5 linked regions of the Homo sapiens genome follow. The protein of the gene in region 3 purifies or fractionates together with the protein of the main gene of each other region. This does not show direct contact. Each region holds a gene or a part of one and is shown on either strand. Other genes may lie near its edges. The genes, in order: SLC25A3, AP1G1, ASB10, ARL1 and CPVL.

Evidence for each region.
Region 1: the proteins of ASB10 (region 3) and SLC25A3 purify together in Homo sapiens (affinity purification with mass spectrometry, with the first as the bait; one large-scale study listed by BioGRID). This does not show direct contact.
Region 2: the proteins of ASB10 (region 3) and AP1G1 purify together in Homo sapiens (affinity purification with mass spectrometry, with the first as the bait; one large-scale study listed by BioGRID). This does not show direct contact.
Region 4: the proteins of ASB10 (region 3) and ARL1 purify together in Homo sapiens (affinity purification with mass spectrometry, with the first as the bait; one large-scale study listed by BioGRID). This does not show direct contact.
Region 5: the proteins of ASB10 (region 3) and CPVL purify together in Homo sapiens (affinity purification with mass spectrometry, with the first as the bait; one large-scale study listed by BioGRID). This does not show direct contact.

The regions. Positions count from the first base shown.
Region 1 is NC_000012.12:98,596,684-98,600,201, forward strand, and holds part of SLC25A3 (solute carrier family 25 member 3 isoform b precursor), read left to right. Parts: intron 1-1,172; coding exon 1,173-1,352; intron 1,353-1,838; coding exon 1,839-2,020; intron 2,021-2,951; exon of another isoform or gene 2,952-3,201; intron 3,202-3,271; coding exon 3,272-3,444; intron 3,445-3,518. UniProt on the Homo sapiens protein: Inorganic ion transporter that transports phosphate or copper ions across the mitochondrial inner membrane into the matrix compartment. Mediates proton-coupled symport of phosphate ions necessary for mitochondrial oxidative phosphorylation of ADP to ATP.
Region 2 is NC_000016.10:71,732,318-71,735,835, forward strand, and holds part of AP1G1 (AP-1 complex subunit gamma-1), read right to left. Parts: intron 2,391-3,518; coding exon 2,292-2,390; intron 843-2,291; coding exon 741-842; 3' UTR 1-740. UniProt on the Homo sapiens protein: Subunit of clathrin-associated adaptor protein complex 1 that plays a role in protein sorting in the late-Golgi/trans-Golgi network (TGN) and/or endosomes.
Region 3 is NC_000007.14:151,184,441-151,188,624, forward strand, and holds the start of ASB10 (ankyrin repeat and SOCS box protein 10), read right to left. Parts: upstream 2,811-4,184; 5' UTR 2,691-2,810; coding exon 2,375-2,690; intron 2,220-2,374; coding exon 1,952-2,219; intron 1-1,951. UniProt on the Homo sapiens protein: May be a substrate-recognition component of a SCF-like ECS (Elongin-Cullin-SOCS-box protein) E3 ubiquitin-protein ligase complex which mediates the ubiquitination and subsequent proteasomal degradation of target proteins.
Region 4 is NC_000012.12:101,395,193-101,397,788, forward strand, and holds part of ARL1 (ADP-ribosylation factor-like protein 1), read right to left. Parts: intron 1,386-2,596; coding exon 1,207-1,385; intron 479-1,206; coding exon 448-478; 3' UTR 1-447. UniProt on the Homo sapiens protein: GTP-binding protein that recruits several effectors, such as golgins, arfaptins and Arf-GEFs to the trans-Golgi network, and modulates their functions at the Golgi complex.
Region 5 is NC_000007.14:29,136,538-29,140,055, forward strand, and holds part of CPVL (probable serine carboxypeptidase CPVL isoform b precursor), read right to left. Parts: intron 1-3,518. UniProt on the Homo sapiens protein: May be involved in the digestion of phagocytosed particles in the lysosome, participation in an inflammatory protease cascade, and trimming of peptides for antigen presentation.

The sequences.
Region 1 (3,518 bases), on a different chromosome or scaffold from region 3:
ACAGTTATATCTATTATCTAGACAGTAGCTTTTAAAAAGTAGGAGGTGGGCCAAGCATGGTCGCCCACACCTGGAATGCCAGCATTTTGGGTAGCCGAAGCAGGTGGGTCACTTGAGGTCAGGAGTTCGAGATCAGAACTCAATCTAGCCAACATGGTGAAACCTCATCTCTGCTAAAAATACAAAAATTAGCTGGGCATGGTGGCGTGCCTGTAGTCGCAGCTACTCGGGAGGCTGAGGCAGGAGAATCGCTTGAACCTGGGAGGTGGAGGTTGCAGTGAGCTGAGATCACACCATGGCACTCCATCCTGGGCTACAGAGCAAGACTCAAAAAACAAACAAACAAAAAACACAAAAAAAGTAGTAGGAGTTGGGTGGTAAGAAATCTGTTAAGAATCAGTTTTGTTACGTATTTTTGTTGAAATTTTACCCTCTTAACTATCACTCCAAGACTTAAGTTTGACACAGAAAGCTTTTGTTGAAATTTTACCCTCTTAACTATCACTCCAAGACTTAGGTTTGACACAGAAAGCTAGACCTTAATGTACAACAGTTTCTATTTATAAAAGTAATCAAATGAACAATAATAAACAGTGATAAGCATAAACTAATAAAAGTTATATGAATGTAGTTCCTCACTCAAAATATCTTAATATTTTCAGATGTCAGTTGACCTTGGATAACTGAAGCCACAGAAAATGAACTCTTGGATAAGGGAGAGCTACTGTATTTCTTTTTTTTTTTTTGAGATGGAGTCTTGCTCTGCTGCCCAGGCTGGAGTGTAGTGGTGCCATCGTGGCTCACTGCAACCTCCACCTCCCTCCCTCAGGCTCAAGCGATTGTTCTGTCTCACCCTCACCCTCCCGAGTAGCTGGGATTACAGGTGCACGCCACCATGCCCGTCCAATTTTTTGTATTTTAGTAGAGATGGGGTTTCACTGTGTTGCCCAGGCTGGTCTTGAACTCCTGAGCTCAGGTAATCCACCTGCCTCAGCCTCCCAAAGTGCTGGGATTACAGATGTGAGCCACCGTGCCTGGCAGGAATTACTGTAGTTACCTTTTGTGTAGTTGCTGAAATTTATTATGGAACCCAAACAAAAATAATCATGAGATTAAATTTTTATGTTAGCTGTTTGGTGCATTTAATTTTTTTTTTCTTGTTTTAAATAAAGGTGGACCCCCAAAAGTACAAGGGCATATTTAACGGATTCTCAGTTACACTTAAAGAGGATGGTGTTCGTGGTTTGGCTAAAGGATGGGCTCCGACTTTCCTTGGCTACTCCATGCAGGGACTCTGCAAGTTTGGCTTTTATGAAGTCTTTAAAGTCTTGTATAGCAATATGCTTGGAGAGGTATGTAATTAACTTTAAAATTGAATGTTCCGAGTGTTTAAGACTTTCCGAGTGTTCTTAGATTTTTGTCTGTCTTGCCTTATTTTAGCACTGAAGAAAATGGTCCTACAAAGTGAGCAACTTGTTTTAAATCGTATGCCTGTGTCAGCAGAGACAGGTTGATAAATGTATTTCATTAAATTACAATTCTCCTTTTAATATACTATCTTGTTTTCTAAGTAAGTTGGATTTTGAGTTTTTTAGAGAAGGGCTCTGGGACTCCTTTGCGTAGTTCCGGGGCATGGCATCTAGATATTTTTTGAATATTCATGTTGTTCACATAGTTACGTGTTTTGTTAATGAGGTTATGAGACCACATATATATTCCATATCATCGTGTGTTACTTTATAAAATGTCTGAAGCTTAGTTGTTTTCTAGAACTGTCACTTCAATTGAAAACCAACACAACAGCAATTCACATCCCTTCCTTGTGTTTTGGATTTTAGGAGAATACTTATCTCTGGCGCACATCACTATATTTGGCTGCCTCTGCCAGTGCTGAATTCTTTGCTGACATTGCCCTGGCTCCTATGGAAGCTGCTAAGGTTCGAATTCAAACCCAGCCAGGTTATGCCAACACTTTGAGGGATGCAGCTCCCAAAATGTATAAGGAAGAAGGCCTAAAAGCGTAAGTAAACACTTAAAAATTTATACTATGAAAGTACTTATTTTAAGTGAACTTCATTTTTTTTTGTTTTTTTTTTTGTTTTGTTTTTTTGAGACAAAGTCTCGCTCTGTCACCCAGGCTGGAGTGCAGTGGCGTGATCTCGGCTCACTGCAAGCTCCGCCTCCCGGGTTCACGCCATTCTCCTGCCTCAGCCTCCCAAGTAGCTGGGACTACAGGCGCCTGCCACTGCGCCCAGCTAATTTTTTGTATTTTTCAGTATAGACGGAGTTTCACCGTCTCCATCTCCTGACCTCATGATCCGCCCACCTTGGCCTCCCAAAATGCTGGGATTACAGGTGTGAGCCACCGCACCCGGCTTCTTTTTTTTTTTTCTTTGAGACGGAGTTTTGCTCTTGTTGTCCAGGCTGGAGTGCAATGGCACTATCTCAGCTCACTGCAACCTCCGCCTCCCAGGTTCAAGTGATTGTCCTGCCTCAGCCTGCTGAATAGCTGGGATTACAGGCATGCACCACCACGCCTGGCTAATTTTGTATTTTTAGTAGAGACTCCATGTTGGTCAGGCTGGTCTCGAACTCCTGACCTCAGGTGATCCACCCGCCTCGGCCTCCCAAAGTGCTGGGATTACAGGCGTGAGACACCGCGTCTGGCTGTGAACTTCATTTTTTAGTATTAAGCCTACCAGACTTTTTAAAAAGACTATTATAACATTTAATGTCTATTTACCTGTATGTAGAACATAAACTTGAGAGGTAAAGATAAGTTAATACATGGTTTGAGCCCTGGACTGAGTTTTTTTTTTTTCCCTAGAGTAAGGACCATTTGTCGGTCTACAAATGACTTGATGTTTGGCCTAAACATTTACTATTAACTTTTAGGGAGGGCTTGTTAGTATCCTTGTGATCTATTCACAGTTAAGAATTTCCATGACCACAACATGCTTCCTTAGATCCACCTTTGTGGATGAATCTTGAACTGAGTTCCACTTGTAAACTTCTTGTTTCTTGTGGTTCCAGTAGTCAAAGAAACATCCAGCAACTTTTTTGGTTGTATAGTCAAAGGTGCTTGAGTCATTGGCATGTAAGAGAAATATACCTGCATGTTAGTCTAACGTTCTGATAGAAATGACATGCATTTATGCTGCCATTTGTTACTATCAGGACTCGACTCGTGTGCGGACATTTCTGTTAATAATGACAGTCTCTGATAGATGAGTGTATGCAACTGTGTAAAACAAGTCTCTTGATTTCCTAGATTCTACAAGGGGGTTGCTCCTCTCTGGATGAGACAGATACCATACACCATGATGAAGTTCGCCTGCTTTGAACGTACTGTTGAAGCACTGTACAAGTTTGTGGTTCCTAAGCCCCGCAGTGAATGTTCAAAGCCAGAGCAGCTGGTTGTAACATTTGTAGCAGGTTACATAGGTACGAATTACTTAGAACACACTTGTCTGAAATTATGAACAAATAATCATTTCCATTATTGGCGTTTTTTGAGA
Region 2 (3,518 bases), on a different chromosome or scaffold from region 3:
TATTACAAATAGAGCACCATATCCTTCATGCCAAATCTCAACAAAAGCTCTTTTTAACTCCATCTGTCCAGTGTTTACAAATAAACTCGCAAGGTCTGACCAGTTCTTGGTAACAAACATACATGTGTGTGTCTGTGTGTATACAGCAATGCACAGAAAAGGCTACCAGGAGCCTAATGCCTCTTTCAAACATTGGGGGAACCAGTAGAAAAAGGCAGGGCTCCCTAATGTCCATTATTACATTTCCATTCCGAATGCCAGATGTTAAAAGTGCCTGAAGATGGTAACCCAGCTAGTGAGGAATAAATACCCCACCTTGCCCAGTCCACAGAGAAACAACAGTAGAAAGAAGGGGCAACTCTTTGCTGCAGAGACAAAGTGAGTGTTTTTTCGCCATGGATTGCAGTCCTCTCCTCCAGACCAGCTGCTTATTTCCTCAGGGGCCCAGGGAATGTTGATTCTGGCTGTAAATGTGGGAGGGGTGGAGAAGTGCGGAAAAAGGAGAAGAGGAAGAGTGCAAAGTAGCCTCCAGAAGCAGCCAGCCTCAACAGTGGAGGAGAGGACATTAGTCTTTAACAATGCTTCAAGGTCAGCAGTAACTTTAGGAAAATCCTCCTCAGCAGTTCTCTTCAGCTCCTCATGCCCGTGGTACAGTTGGGGGGGACTTGCCAGCAATCACAACCTCCTTCCCAGAGTTCCTTTGATTGAGTGGGATAAAGAATGAGAATGGTGCCAAACCCTCATTGCCAGGACTGAGGGGGAAAGTTGTTCACCTCTGCTAGATCTTGCATTGCTGAGCCCTTGTGATTATATGTAAGCTTGATCCGCATTCGCAGCTGTTGCTATAAGAGGAAAAGAGAAGTGCAAATTATATACTGAAATGAAATCTCCAGAATCTGTCCGGTCCACAAATAGACTTTTAATCTTAGAGGTCAAAACTTAAAGCAAAGCTGTCTGTTAAGAATGACAGGTAAACAACAACAAAAAACACCCAGTACTCTAGGCTTGAGCCAAGAAGCTAACAATGTCATGCCACCAAGTTGAGAAAGCGCATCTGCAGAATACACGGTTAGCTTTAATCCTTGAACTGCATTAAAAGGACAGAACTCCTTGGGAGCATTTTTTCTTTTCTTTTCTTTTGAAACAGGGTTTTGTTCTTATTGCCCAGGCTGGAGTGCAGTGGCACAATCTTGGCTCACCGCCACACCAGACTAATATTTTTATTTTTAGTAGAGACGGGGTTTCACCATGTTGGCCAGGCTGGTCTTCAACTCCTGACCTCAGATAATACACCCACCTCAGCCTCCTAAAATGCTGGCATTACAGGCGTGAGCCACCATGGAGCATTCTCCTAGTAACATTTTGCTGAGTCCTTTTCAAAAAGATTCAAACCTTGTATCCAAGTCTCTTAAAAAATGAGGTGAACATATACTCATCGTACGCTCTCCATTCAGATACACTGTTGCTTTATCTGAAAAACCTACAGTAAATGTGAACATGACCTTTTGTTCCTAAAGCATAAAATTTTAAAAAATGACTTAACTCACAGGTAACAGCAGTAGTTTTAAGAGAACTCAATTAGACACTTTTTGTATGGCAGATTTCAAATACAAATGCACTAAGACATTTTTTACTCTCTGTATCAGATGGTCAAAGGAGTTTGTGCTTGTACTATAGAGGCCGATGCTCAAAATATAGTGAATAGCAGAGGAAAGGCAAGTGTTACAAGAGAAAGAAAGTATACTGTTACTTATGAGCAACTAGTAGAGCTCTATTAAAGAAATTCTCTGAACCATTTTCAAAAACTGAAAACCAACTGATTACTATTAAGGTGAGCTTATTTCTTTGAGAAGAGATAATAAAAATATTGCTTAATTTCAGTTTCTAAAGCTATTTTTCATTTGGCTGCTTCATTTAAAATGCCTCTATTTTTCTATTCATACTTAATAACTGTAGCAGTAAATGTAGGTATTTGGTTTCAACAAATGCTCTTACCTCAGATTTCAACTTGTGTATAAATTAAAATGTCTAAGCTTCTCCCCTACCCCCAAAAACCAGACCTTTAATCTAGCTTTTTTTGAAGTTGCATTTTAATAAGATGCCACTAAGCCACCTGATGTCTCTGGGTTCCATTTGTTATTTACAAAAGAGCAAGGAAGTTAGACCAGGCATTTTCATTGATCTCTTCTCTAACTATGAGTCAGAAAAACCTAAAGAAACAAAGCAGAATTTTATTTCGGGAAATATGCTTACACTTCGGCTCAGATATTGGCTACAAATGTGCTACTCACCTTCTGAGGGTTCAGAACTTTAATGACTTGTGTGATGGTCCCCGTGTTAAATGCTGGGACAATGCTGCTGCTAGGAGACAAGAGCTGCAGCTGGAATGTCTAGGGGGGAACAAAGGGCACTCTTCAGAAAAAGAATTACACAACGCTAGGTCAGAGATACCAAAAACCATTTAGACACCCAGATGATGGGTCAAGCAACAGATTTCACTACTACTAAGTTTTGCCTACTACTTGTTTTCTAGATATCAGGAATTCACAGCACGTGAGTTGACTCCCTGTGGTATTTGTAAAAATCCACTGTTCGGTTCTTTGATCATGACAACTAGTAATAAACCACATTCTCCTTTCTGGCAGAAGGAATTCTAGCCTACCTCTTTTCAAAAGCTGACCAATTCTTCTTCTGGCAACTTCACTTAATGGTAACTGATCAACTATGCAAGTAAAATATCGGTGCTTTTGGCTTAAAAAACAGCCAGAAAGAAATGAAAAGAAAAGCTTCCCAAAAATAGCAAACCAACATACTGGTCACCAACTATAAGCTTTTAGGCTTTTGTGTGATTGGATAACTGGGATGCAGAGACTTGAACTTTTGTTTTTTAAAGCCTGCATAATCTATAATGTGTCAGAGCCTCCTCTCCACATGACAGAAGGAACGGAAAGACTTGCAGAACCAGCCTATACAGCAAAAGACCTAGATAAGCCAAACAGTATTAATTTGTTGAATGCTGGTGGGGTTTATTTGCTTGCTTATAGAAATAAGAGTTGAAAGTGCTGGCTGGGTGTGGTGGCTCAAGCCTGTAATCCCAGCACTTTGGGAGGTCAAGGCGAGCGGATCACGAGGTCAGGAGTTCGAGACCAGCCTGGCCAACACAGTGAAACCCCGTCTCTACTAAAAATACAAAAATTAGCTGGGCATGGTGGCACATGCCTGTAGTCCCAGCTACTCGGGAGGCTGAGGCAGGAGAATCGCTTGAACCCAGGAGGTTGTGGTGAGCCGAGACTGTGCCACTGCACTCCAGCCTGGGCAACAGAGCAAGACTCCGTCTCAAAAAAAAAAAAAAAGTGCTATATAGGGCAAGCTAGGTAAACCATACTGTACTACGTAGCTATTGTATGAACTAGCATTTGAAAATCTTTCCTAAAAGTAGATTAAACTTCTAAAATATTTGAGAGAGAGAGACACTAGTCTTCTCTAGGGCCAAAAGTTGCAAGAGTGAAGATTCACTC
Region 3 (4,184 bases):
ACAACATGGGTGAAGTCTGAAGACATCATGCTAAGTGGAATAAGCCAGTTACAAAAGGACAAATACCACATGATTCCACTTATGTGAGGTCCCCAGAGTGTTCACATTCAGAGACAGAAAGTAACATAGTGATTGCCAGGGGCTTGGGAGACAGGGTGGGGTGGGTGGTTAGTGTTTGATGGGGTTAGAATTTCAGTTTGGGAAGATGAGAAAGTTTGGAGATGGATGGTGGCGATGGTTGAACAACAACATGAATGTGCTTAATGCCATCGAACTGTACGCTTAAAAATGGTTACAAAAGGCCGGGCACGGTGGCTCGTGCCTGGAATCCCAGCACTTTGGGAGGCCGAGGCGGGCAGAACACGAGGTCAGGAGATTGAGACCATCCTGGCTAACACTGTGAAACCGCGTCTCTACTAAAAATACAAAAAATTAGCCAGGCATGGTGGCGGGGGCCTGTAGTCCCAGCTACTCGCGAGGCTGAGGCAGGAGGATGGCGTGAACCCGGGAGGCGGAGCTTGCAGTGAGCCGAGATCGCACCACTGCACTCCAGCCTGGGCGGCAGAGCAAGACTCCGTCTCAAAAAATAAATAAATAAATAAAAAATGGTTACAAAGGCAAATTTCATGTATATTTTACCACCATTTTGAAAATTAATTTTACATATTTGTCTTTTTTTTTTTTTTTTTGTGAGACAAAGTCTCACTTTGTCTCCCAGGCTGGAGTGCAGTGGCGCAATCTAATCTCCGCTCACTGCAACCTCCACCTCCCAGGTTTAAGCAATTCTCCTGCCTCAGCCTCCCGAGTCGCTGGGATTACAGGCGCCTGCCACCACACCCAGCTAATTTTTGTATTTTTAGTAGAGACAAGGTTTGGGCATGTTGGCCAGGCTGGTCTCGAACTCCTGGCCTCAAGCAAGCCACCTGCCTCAGCCTCCCAAAGTGCTGGGATTACAGGTGTGAGCCACCGTGCCCGGCCATTTGTCATTTTTTTTATAGGGCTGCTAGAACACTGTAAATTGCATATATGGCTCACATTAGGTTTCCACTGGGCCACGCTAGTAAAGAACACATCTTCAACCATAGTATGATTAAGCCTGTGGAATCCTCTAGAGGCTGATGAGATTAACAAGAAGGAGAGGGTCCATGAAAGGAGAACCCCAGGGTCAATAATTTGGCACCTTTCAGAGGCAAGAGACAAGACCTGCAGGTGTGCAGTCAGTAGAGAGAGGGCCTCTATAGGATGTAGAGTTAGTTCACAAAATTGTAATTGGGATCCCATCCTACAACGTTCCTTACACTTGGGTTGCAATTATTTATGTCACTGCAAAGGACTATTCCCTACAATAAATGATACATTGGCACATTTGGGTGTATTCATCAGTTTCTTGGGAGTTTAGTTAGTGAGAGTCCCTTGAGCCCATGATCTGAGGGTGCCCTACCAATATGGAGATTCTAGACCTGTCTTGGAAAACCAGACCCTACCCAGAGGGACCCAGGCAGGTCCTCACTGGGGCCACCATCCTCTACTCCCTGTCTGGATCACTGGACAGTAAGCTCCCTGAGGGCAGGGCCTCAGGGACTTAGTTGCTGTTGTGCTTAGCACAGTGCCTGGAACATAGGATAAGCTCAGAAAGTGTTTTCAAAAATTTTAAGCAACACCACCTCCCCATAATGGAGCCAGGCAATTTCCCAATGCGGGCCATGCAACTGCACCCCTGCCACAGCCTCCCTCCACCCCTGGGAGACCAGAAAACTGTCCAAAGTCCAGGCCACTCCAAAGTTCATGGGGTCAACGGGTGGATGGCTTGGGAAGTAATTGCACCCTGACCCGCGCCCCAAGCCTGGACTGCTCTGTCCCAGGTCCCTGACATTTTCCCCCATCCTCCCTGAGAAGGCCTCTTTGCTTCCCTTCAGAGTGGAACTGGGGGTTGGGGTGAGGGGTCACTCACTCAAGGGTGCCAGGCCCCCGGCAGAGATGCAGGGGGCGTTTCCCATCCTGGTCAGCGATGTTGGGGTCGGCTCCTGCCACCAGCAGCACATGAACACAGGCAGTGTGGCCTGCAGCACAGGCCTCGTGCAGGGCGGTGCGGCCCCCAGGGGCACTGTCTGGCCTTGCTCGCCGCCTCAGCAGCAGCCGCAGGACTTCCGTGTGGCCACGGCTGGCTGCCACATGCAGTGGGGTGGTCAGCTCCTCTTCGTATGTCAGAGACCAGAGTCCTAGGGAGGGGAGACGTGGGCCTCAGATCCCCAGGGAAGGCAGAGACCTTCCAGCCAATGGGGTGAGGTGGGCAGAGGCAGGAAGAGGGAGCCCAGAGCTCCATCTGCAGCCTCCCCTCTCTCCCACTGAGAGCCCCCAGTGCCCCGGCCCGTACTCAGAGCACGGATGTTGAAGCGGAAATCCCTCCATCGCTCTGGGTCGCTGGTATCAAAGACGGAATCAGGAGCCAGGCCAGTACTGGAGTCCGCGAGGATGCGGGAGACACAGCCCACGTCCCCAGCCAGCACTGCCTGCCAGAAGGCAAGGGCAGGTCCTGAGGCTGTGCGGGTGACGATGGGTCCCGGGCCAGACTTGAGGTGCTCCTCAGACCCTCTGCTGGGCTTCTCCACCAGCCTGGCACAGAGGGGGTGTCTGTCATCGAGGGGCTCTCCCTGCCCCTTGCACTCTTCTGGAGACCAACTCATGAGCATGTGGGCAGGGAAAGGGGAGTGGGGAGGAGGAGAGGTATATGCCAAAGGCAGAGAGAGAGAGAGAGAGCAGGAGGGAAATACAGACAGACAGAAGGCCCCTGTGTCCCACGCTCCGAGGCTGACCTGGCCACGCATCCAGCAGGAGCTATTCTGGGCTCCACATGACTGTGTTCTTGGGCCAAGGTGTAGGCTATTGGGCAAGCTTTGAGGTCGGGGAGAAACAGCCGGGGGCTTCTCCTTTCACTCAAGCCCTTAGGACCTCTGTGGCCGAGGCAGTCAGCCCAGCCCCCTGGTTCTCAGCAACCCCCAGATGCCCCTCACCCCTCTGGTGGCTGCTCCAGCGAGGCTCTGCGGCCCGGCTCTCCAGCAGCAGGTCGGCTGTGCTGTGCGGGGGGAACAGCTCCTGCAACCTTGCCAGGTCCCCGGTGTAGAGGGCATTCTGCAGGGCCATGTCTTGGCAGAGCAGTGGTGATGGCCGAGGGGGCTCCCAGGCTGGGCGGGAGTGGGGCCTCCAGATCCGGCAGGCCGGGGCGGAGGGAAGGCACCCCAGATGGTGTCCCCAGTGGGGAGAGGAGTTCTTTCCCCAGGGCATGGCTTGTTCTGGGAGAGCCAAAGCAGCACGACTCCCAGCGATGTTGCTGGTGGACTGGGCAGGTGGGTGCTGGGCCCGAGCTGGGTGGGGCCCAGCATGGGAGGCGCAGGGGAGCACAACATCAGGCAAAGCCATAAATAGCCCTGACTGGCCCAGCTGTCAGTCAGGCCGGGTGGGGGAATTAGGGAGGGGCAGGAGAACAAGTGAGGCCTGAGCCCGCCAACCCTGAGCTTCACCCCAGGGCTGTATGACCTCAGGGTGGAAAGGGACCACCCGGACCATGCTGCCCAGTCCGTCATCTCGGCATTAAAGGGAAGTGAATTTCCCAAGATCACGCAGAGAGCTTGTTGCAGAGCCAGGACTGGAACCCAGGGCCTTGAGCTCTTTCTTGTTCACCAAATCGGCCTCCAGCTGCCTGGGCTCTGATCCCACTGGGAAGGCCTGTGGGTGCCAGATAATATTTCCTGCCCTTCCAAATGTCATCTGTTAGCCCTGCACCTTCCCACTCCCAAACCAAGGGAGGAGTTCACAGTAGTGACACAGATTGCCCTCGCTGTGTGAGGCACCCCTCAGGGGGCTCCCTTAGACAGACGTGTGCCTGAGTAACAGAGCGTAACCCACAGGCAAGCCACAGAAACTCCCCATGCTCGTCCTTGATGCCAACCCCCCCATCTCCCTGGATGACCTTGGGTGGCATCTCTCCCCTGCTGTGGTTACATGGGGTCTCTTCACTAGAGAGTGAGAAAGGAGAAATGTCTCTGTGTACTCAGGCACTGACTTTTGTTTGGGGGCCGGGTGGATCAAAAGGAAAAAAAGAGAGAAAGAAGATGAGAAACCAGGCCCTCGGGCTCAGCTCTGACCCACCACTGCCCACCATGGGCTTGAGGTGCTCCAGCCCCATT
Region 4 (2,596 bases), on a different chromosome or scaffold from region 3:
AACTATGTTCCTCACCTACTCTCATACTGAGTCTAATCTTTGGAAAGATAATTCATTTTAAGGGGAAAAAAATCTGTTAAGATATTTTTTAGTATTTATACAAACAAGCTGCAACTACTATTCAAAAATAGGTTTTTTTCATCCAATAGGAGTATACTCTTTAATAGAACTGTATTTGAATAAGAATTCCATACAAATAGAATATATACCTTAACACAAGAAAGCAAGAAAAGAATATTTTACATTACATAGAACATTCAGGTGATTCGATCAAATTATCCCTCCAACTAAATACTTATTTTCCCTATTTACTACAAATATTGCAGTCAGTCAGTATATGCCAATAATCATATAGTTTTAACATCTAGTAGTGTGAAGTACACTTGACTGTTTCCAAAGGGAGAGAGGTGATGTAGTCTTCATTTCAGGGGAGAAGAATGGACTGAATTACTGTCTGCTTTTTAATGTTTCAACTAACCTGTAAAGAGAAAATGAACTGTTTTATAAAATTAATTTTCAGGTATAAAGCATGATCATCTATAATAAACTTTGTATTGGAGGTGGATTCCAAAGTACTTAAAATGATGACAGCTAACACAGATGAGGTTATGCACTAGATATCCATAAGGTTCCTCTAAGCTTTGAATTTGTCTATGATTTGAATGAAAAATTCAAAAAAGACCAAATACCTATTTTCCAGGCTACTACTACTTCTGGGCTACATATGGATGACTCAGAGGTGAAACTAGTCTCAATCCTCAAGGAGGTGATTATCTAATGAGTAGATGAACAAATCAAACTTACAAGACAGCAAAACAAGTACTATGTCACTAATCTGTGACAAGGGCATCTAACTTTAAGTGAGTGATTAGGCAGTAGGAATAGAGATACATTAGGAAAAGCTCTTCAGAAGAGAGTCTTAAGCTAATTCCTGAAGGATAAGGAATTGGAGGGTGAGGTGAGGCAGGGAAAAGGCTAAAAATTGGCAAAGAATTTGCTTATCTAAGTAACTGTAATCAGGTAGGTGTGGTTGAGAAGACAGATGCACCTGAAGACCAGTGAGAGAAAACGCTTGAGGAACTTATGAAATAAGCTGCTAAGTAAATCAAAGTTTCATCCTCAACACGGGAGAAAAATTACACGTGGACGTGCATAGCTGCAAGCACACACAAATGCACAGATGGCTTCTGGAAGCATGATACTTGCCATTCCATTGCCTCATCAAGGCCGGTGCCTTTGGTTGCTGACGTTTTGAATATCTGCCATTTTCGGTCCTTCAAGGCAGGTAACCCAAGTGAATTTGCCATCTCTGAGGAAGTCATGGCCTGTTCCATGTCCTGTTTATTTGCAAACACCACTAAAATGGCTTTTCTCAGCTCTTCTTCCTAAATGAAATTGAAAATATTTAATTTCTTTTAACTAATGTGCTCTCTCGAGTTTAGAAAATGTCCAAAAATACATTTTAAACGTGTATTTTATAATTAATATATTACACATTATGAAATTATATAGAAATTATATAGAGAAGTATAAAGAAAAGAAGCTTCACTCATAATCCTACCTCCCAAATATGATCACTGTTAACATTTTAGGTGTTTTCTACTAGTACTTTGTTTTGCAGATACTTCAGAGTTTATTTAGTAAATACATTTACACATTTAAGATCACATTTATATATAGTTCCATACCCTGCCTAAAAATTAAAATCATGTTTCTCCAAACTACAACAACTTTTTCAAAATAAAAAAATGGCTAAATATGCTCTACACTATGGATGCATGCACCATAAACTGTGTTAACTATTTTCTAGTATCTGACTCTTATTAGAGTCTTTCCACTAGACTATTAGATAAACCCAAGTGACAGGGTCTTTATACAAAAATTTCTGTTTAAATCTGTTTCCTTAACACAATATTCTAAAAATGGAGTCAAAGTATGAACAGTTTTTTTCAGGCTTTGATAAACTGAATACATGCATGAACAGCTTTCCAGAAAGGTTACCCTACCAACAGTGTATAAAAGTCTCCATCTTCAATGCAGCCTTTGTAGAGTTGGGAATTATTTACTTTTCCAAACATAGCATCTCATTATATATTACTAGGGTATTCGAAATGCACATGGGCTGAGGCAGGAGGATCGCTTAAGTCCAGGAGTTGGAGACCAGCCTGAGCAACACAGGGGTCTCTACAAAAATTTTTTTAAAAAACAAACAAAAAAGGAAGCAGAGAGAGGAGCTCAAGGTTATAACAAGCTTTGGTTGTGCCACTGCACTCCAGCCTAGGGGACAGAGGGAGACCCTGTCTCTTTTTTTTTTTTCTTTTTTTAAGACAGTGTCTCGCTCTGTTGCTCAGGCTGAAGTTGCAGTCGTGCAATCTTGGCTCACTGCAGCCTCTGCATCCTGGGTTCAAGTGATTCTCCTGCCTCAGCCTCCTGAGTAGCTGGGACTACAGGTGCCCGCTGCCACGCCCAGCTAATTTTTGTATTTTTAGTAGAGATGAGGTTTCACCATGTTGGTCACTCAGACTGGTCTCGAACTCCTGACCTCATGATCCACCCGCCTCGGCCTCCCAAAGTGCTGGGATTACAGGCATAAGCC
Region 5 (3,518 bases), about 120 Mb from region 3:
AGGTGTAACCCTAAAACCAATAAATCAAGAAACAGATTAGGCAGATTACTTGGAAATTTGGAATTAAAGGCTAGAACAGACAGGTAAAAGTATGAGAGGAGGTCTCAGAGATAAGAGAAGGATGGGGAGGTGGGGAGAAGAAGACTAAAATTTTTTATCATGAGAATTATAACATTACTTTTATTATATTGACAAAAATCAAAAGTAGTTAAGAAGAACTCAAAAACTAAACTTATTATCTCCTTCCCTAAACTTGTCCTTACTTCCCTATTTTTCATCTTGGTTGGAAATACTCCCATCAACTCAAGTACTAAAGCCAGAAATCCAGGATGTATTCTTTATTTATCCATTTTTCTCTGGCCCTGCATTCCCACAGCCAATCAATCACCAACTGAATCTCCTAGATGTTCTTCAAATTCACCTTCACCTCTCTAAATCTACTCTCATGGCCTAATCCAGTTCTTTATTGTGACTTGCCTGGACTACTGCAAACCTCCAAACTAGTTTCCAACCTTGACTTTAACTCCTAATTAAATGAATCCCTCTATACTTCCCTCATGTGCTGCTGTCTCTCCTATTGAGGTGGCATCACTGTCTGGGGTAAATACCTGGGGTTCGCCATCTCATGCCAAGATTAAGGACATGGACACGCACAAGGAGTGAGTTTAGGAGCAGAGGTTTAGTAGGCAAAAGAAAGAGAAAGGAGAACACTTCTCTCTCTTGCAAGAGAGGGGCATCTGAATGGGAAATCTGGCCCTCCGTGGAGTGCACCAGATTTTATAGACAGGCTTGAGGAGGTGGTGTCTGATTTATATAGACAAAGATTGGCCCACAGATTGGCTGGACCAGGTGTGACATTTACATAGCATGCAGGGAAGCTGGCCACCTCACCCTAACCTTATTAAGCAAATGGGCTTTCCACTTGGCCAGCATTACTGTCTGTTCCCTACTGTACACATGGTTGGAAAGGAAAAGGGAAGACGGAGCTGCCATTTTGAACATGCCTAGCCCAGGTAGCCTTTTCCTATTGGCACAACTGCCGGCATTCACCTGTGCAAGCTTCCAGCTTACTTGTCTATGTGTGTAGCTCAATTTTATAGGCAGGCTGCTCTTTGTTAGAAAAGAAAATGATTTGGGGTCTGCTTTTCATTAAAAGGAAAACCTTACCGAGGACTCCTGTACTCTCACTATCTGCCCAAATAATTTCTTCTTAACGCCTATATCACTATTTTGGGAGGTCATAGAATTTATAGCATTTAAAAATTTGTTATGCAGCAATAGATAACCAATACAGAGGCAGGAGAAAAGCATAAGTAGGAAGTGGAGAAATAGGATGGAATCTAGAGAAGTCAGTAGAGAGCTGATCAGGGAGAGTTTTCTAGATATGCTAAGAATCTTTATCCTCTAGTGACTAGGAACTACTGAAGGGCTTGATAATTTGAAAAGAGTACTATGAACATCAATGTAAGGATGGACTTAAGCCAGAAAGACAGCAGGCAGGAAGGCCAGTTAATATGTTTCACAATAATCTAGAATAAAGATGACAGGAGTTTGAACTAGGGCTGGAAACTAGTAATAATAGCGTGGAGAGGGCAGACTTAAAAATAATTAGAAGGTTGACTGGGAGCAGTGGCTCACGCCTGTAATCCCAGCACTTTGGGAGGCCAAGGTGGGTAAGATCACCAGAGGTCAGGAGTTCCAGACCAGCCTGGCCAACATGACAAAACCCTGTCTCTACAAAAAAATACAAAAATTAGCCAGGCTTGGTGGTATGTGCCTGTAATCCCAGCTATTCAGGAGGCTGAGGTGGGAGGATCACTTGAACACCGGAGGCAGAGGTTGCAGTGATCCAAGACCACGCTGCTGCACTCCAGCCTGGGCAAAAGAGCGAGACTACGTCTCCAAATAATAATAATAAGAAGAAGAAGAAGAAAGTAAAACTGGAAGAAACTTGTGATTATATATTAGAGTTGAAATAGAACAAAGAATCTAGGATGATCCCAGATGTGACTTAGATGGCTGGGTGGGTGGACAGTGGTGCCATTAACCGAGAAAGAGAGAGACCCAGATCCCTGGGAGTGAAAATCAGCTCTGCTGCTAATCAGTCTAAGATGCTCCCAACAGAACATTAACAATGTTTCTATATACCCAAGGCCACTCTGCAGCTGCAGTATGATGGACAGTCCTTTTTTCTGAGCAACTGCTGTATTCTTACCAATGATAGCGCTTTGTCCCTCCCATCTCCTGAACAGAGACTGCTGAGAGTCTAAGTTCCTGAGCTGCCACGGGCACTTGGCAGCAGCTAATCCAGCGGGTACCTCTTCCCTGATCCCTCCTTCGACTCATTCAGCACAAGGCCAAATATTTCAGAGGCCTCTTCCCACTTCTCCCAACCTTTGGGTATGTGTCCTCCTTTGCTGGACATAATGCTAACACACCTAACTTTGTGTCATTACACATGTATTTCTCATATTCTCTGCTGAGTGGGTTTCAACTTCCATCCCACTTGAAAGGTGTGCTGAGAAAAGGTAGAAGGAGACTAAAAAATAGGGAGAAAAGAGACAATAAAGCCAGACCGTAGAGGATGGCTGCGGGCTCCCTATAGTACATTACATTCTAAGACGAGCAGGAAAGGCTCTGCCACAATTCCTGAATGTACAAGGTCAAAAGTTCCAGCCTTCACTTTGCCAACAGGTATATCCTTGGGCAAGCCAATTCACTTCTCCCCTTGGACTTCAGTTCCTTCATTTGTAAATTCTGGAGATTAGATGGACTATATAATTCCCAAAATCCCTTTCAGCTTGGAATGTCTAAGATTCTAAAAATGCAGCCAAGGAGATCAGGCTAAAACTGCTTCAGGCTTTGAGTCACAGGGATGATTCACGCAGGCTACCTTAATGAAAGAACTTCCACATCTGCTCTAGGTGCCCTGAACCTACACATTTCTGTCAGTGTTCGTAAGACAACCTAAGAAACCTAAGAAAGGCTATTCTTGGGGGGGCAGGGGGGCTACAACACTGATTAAATTACATGTTTTTTAAGCACAGATTTTTTAAAAATCCTATTAAAATTCTAAATCAGTGGCTTCCAGCAATTTTTCTCTGAAACAGACGTCTCGGATTTTGCAGACACCAATGTTCAGGCACACGTGTACACAAGAATGGTGGAAAGAGTCATGGTTTTACATGGAGTGTGCAGTCTGCCAGCTCAGAAATCTCCTGTGTCCCAACGGCACAGGCGGTTCATTCTCCTGCCAGCCAAGTTAATTCTACCAACATGCCAATAGTTAGAAGGGGAGAAAACAAAACAAAACAAATTATTTCCACTTGACTTGCTGATTGCTAATAATATTCTTCATCAAGTAACCCAGGCAGGAACACTTTTCATCTTCAGAATTAGCTATGGCTGCCATTTCCCCTTTTGTCAAATACAGGGAGATATTTCCCACGGTCTGCACATGACTCAGAATGGCTTCATCTTTATTTCACGTTCTACATTTCTTGTTGCTTGACTTAGGA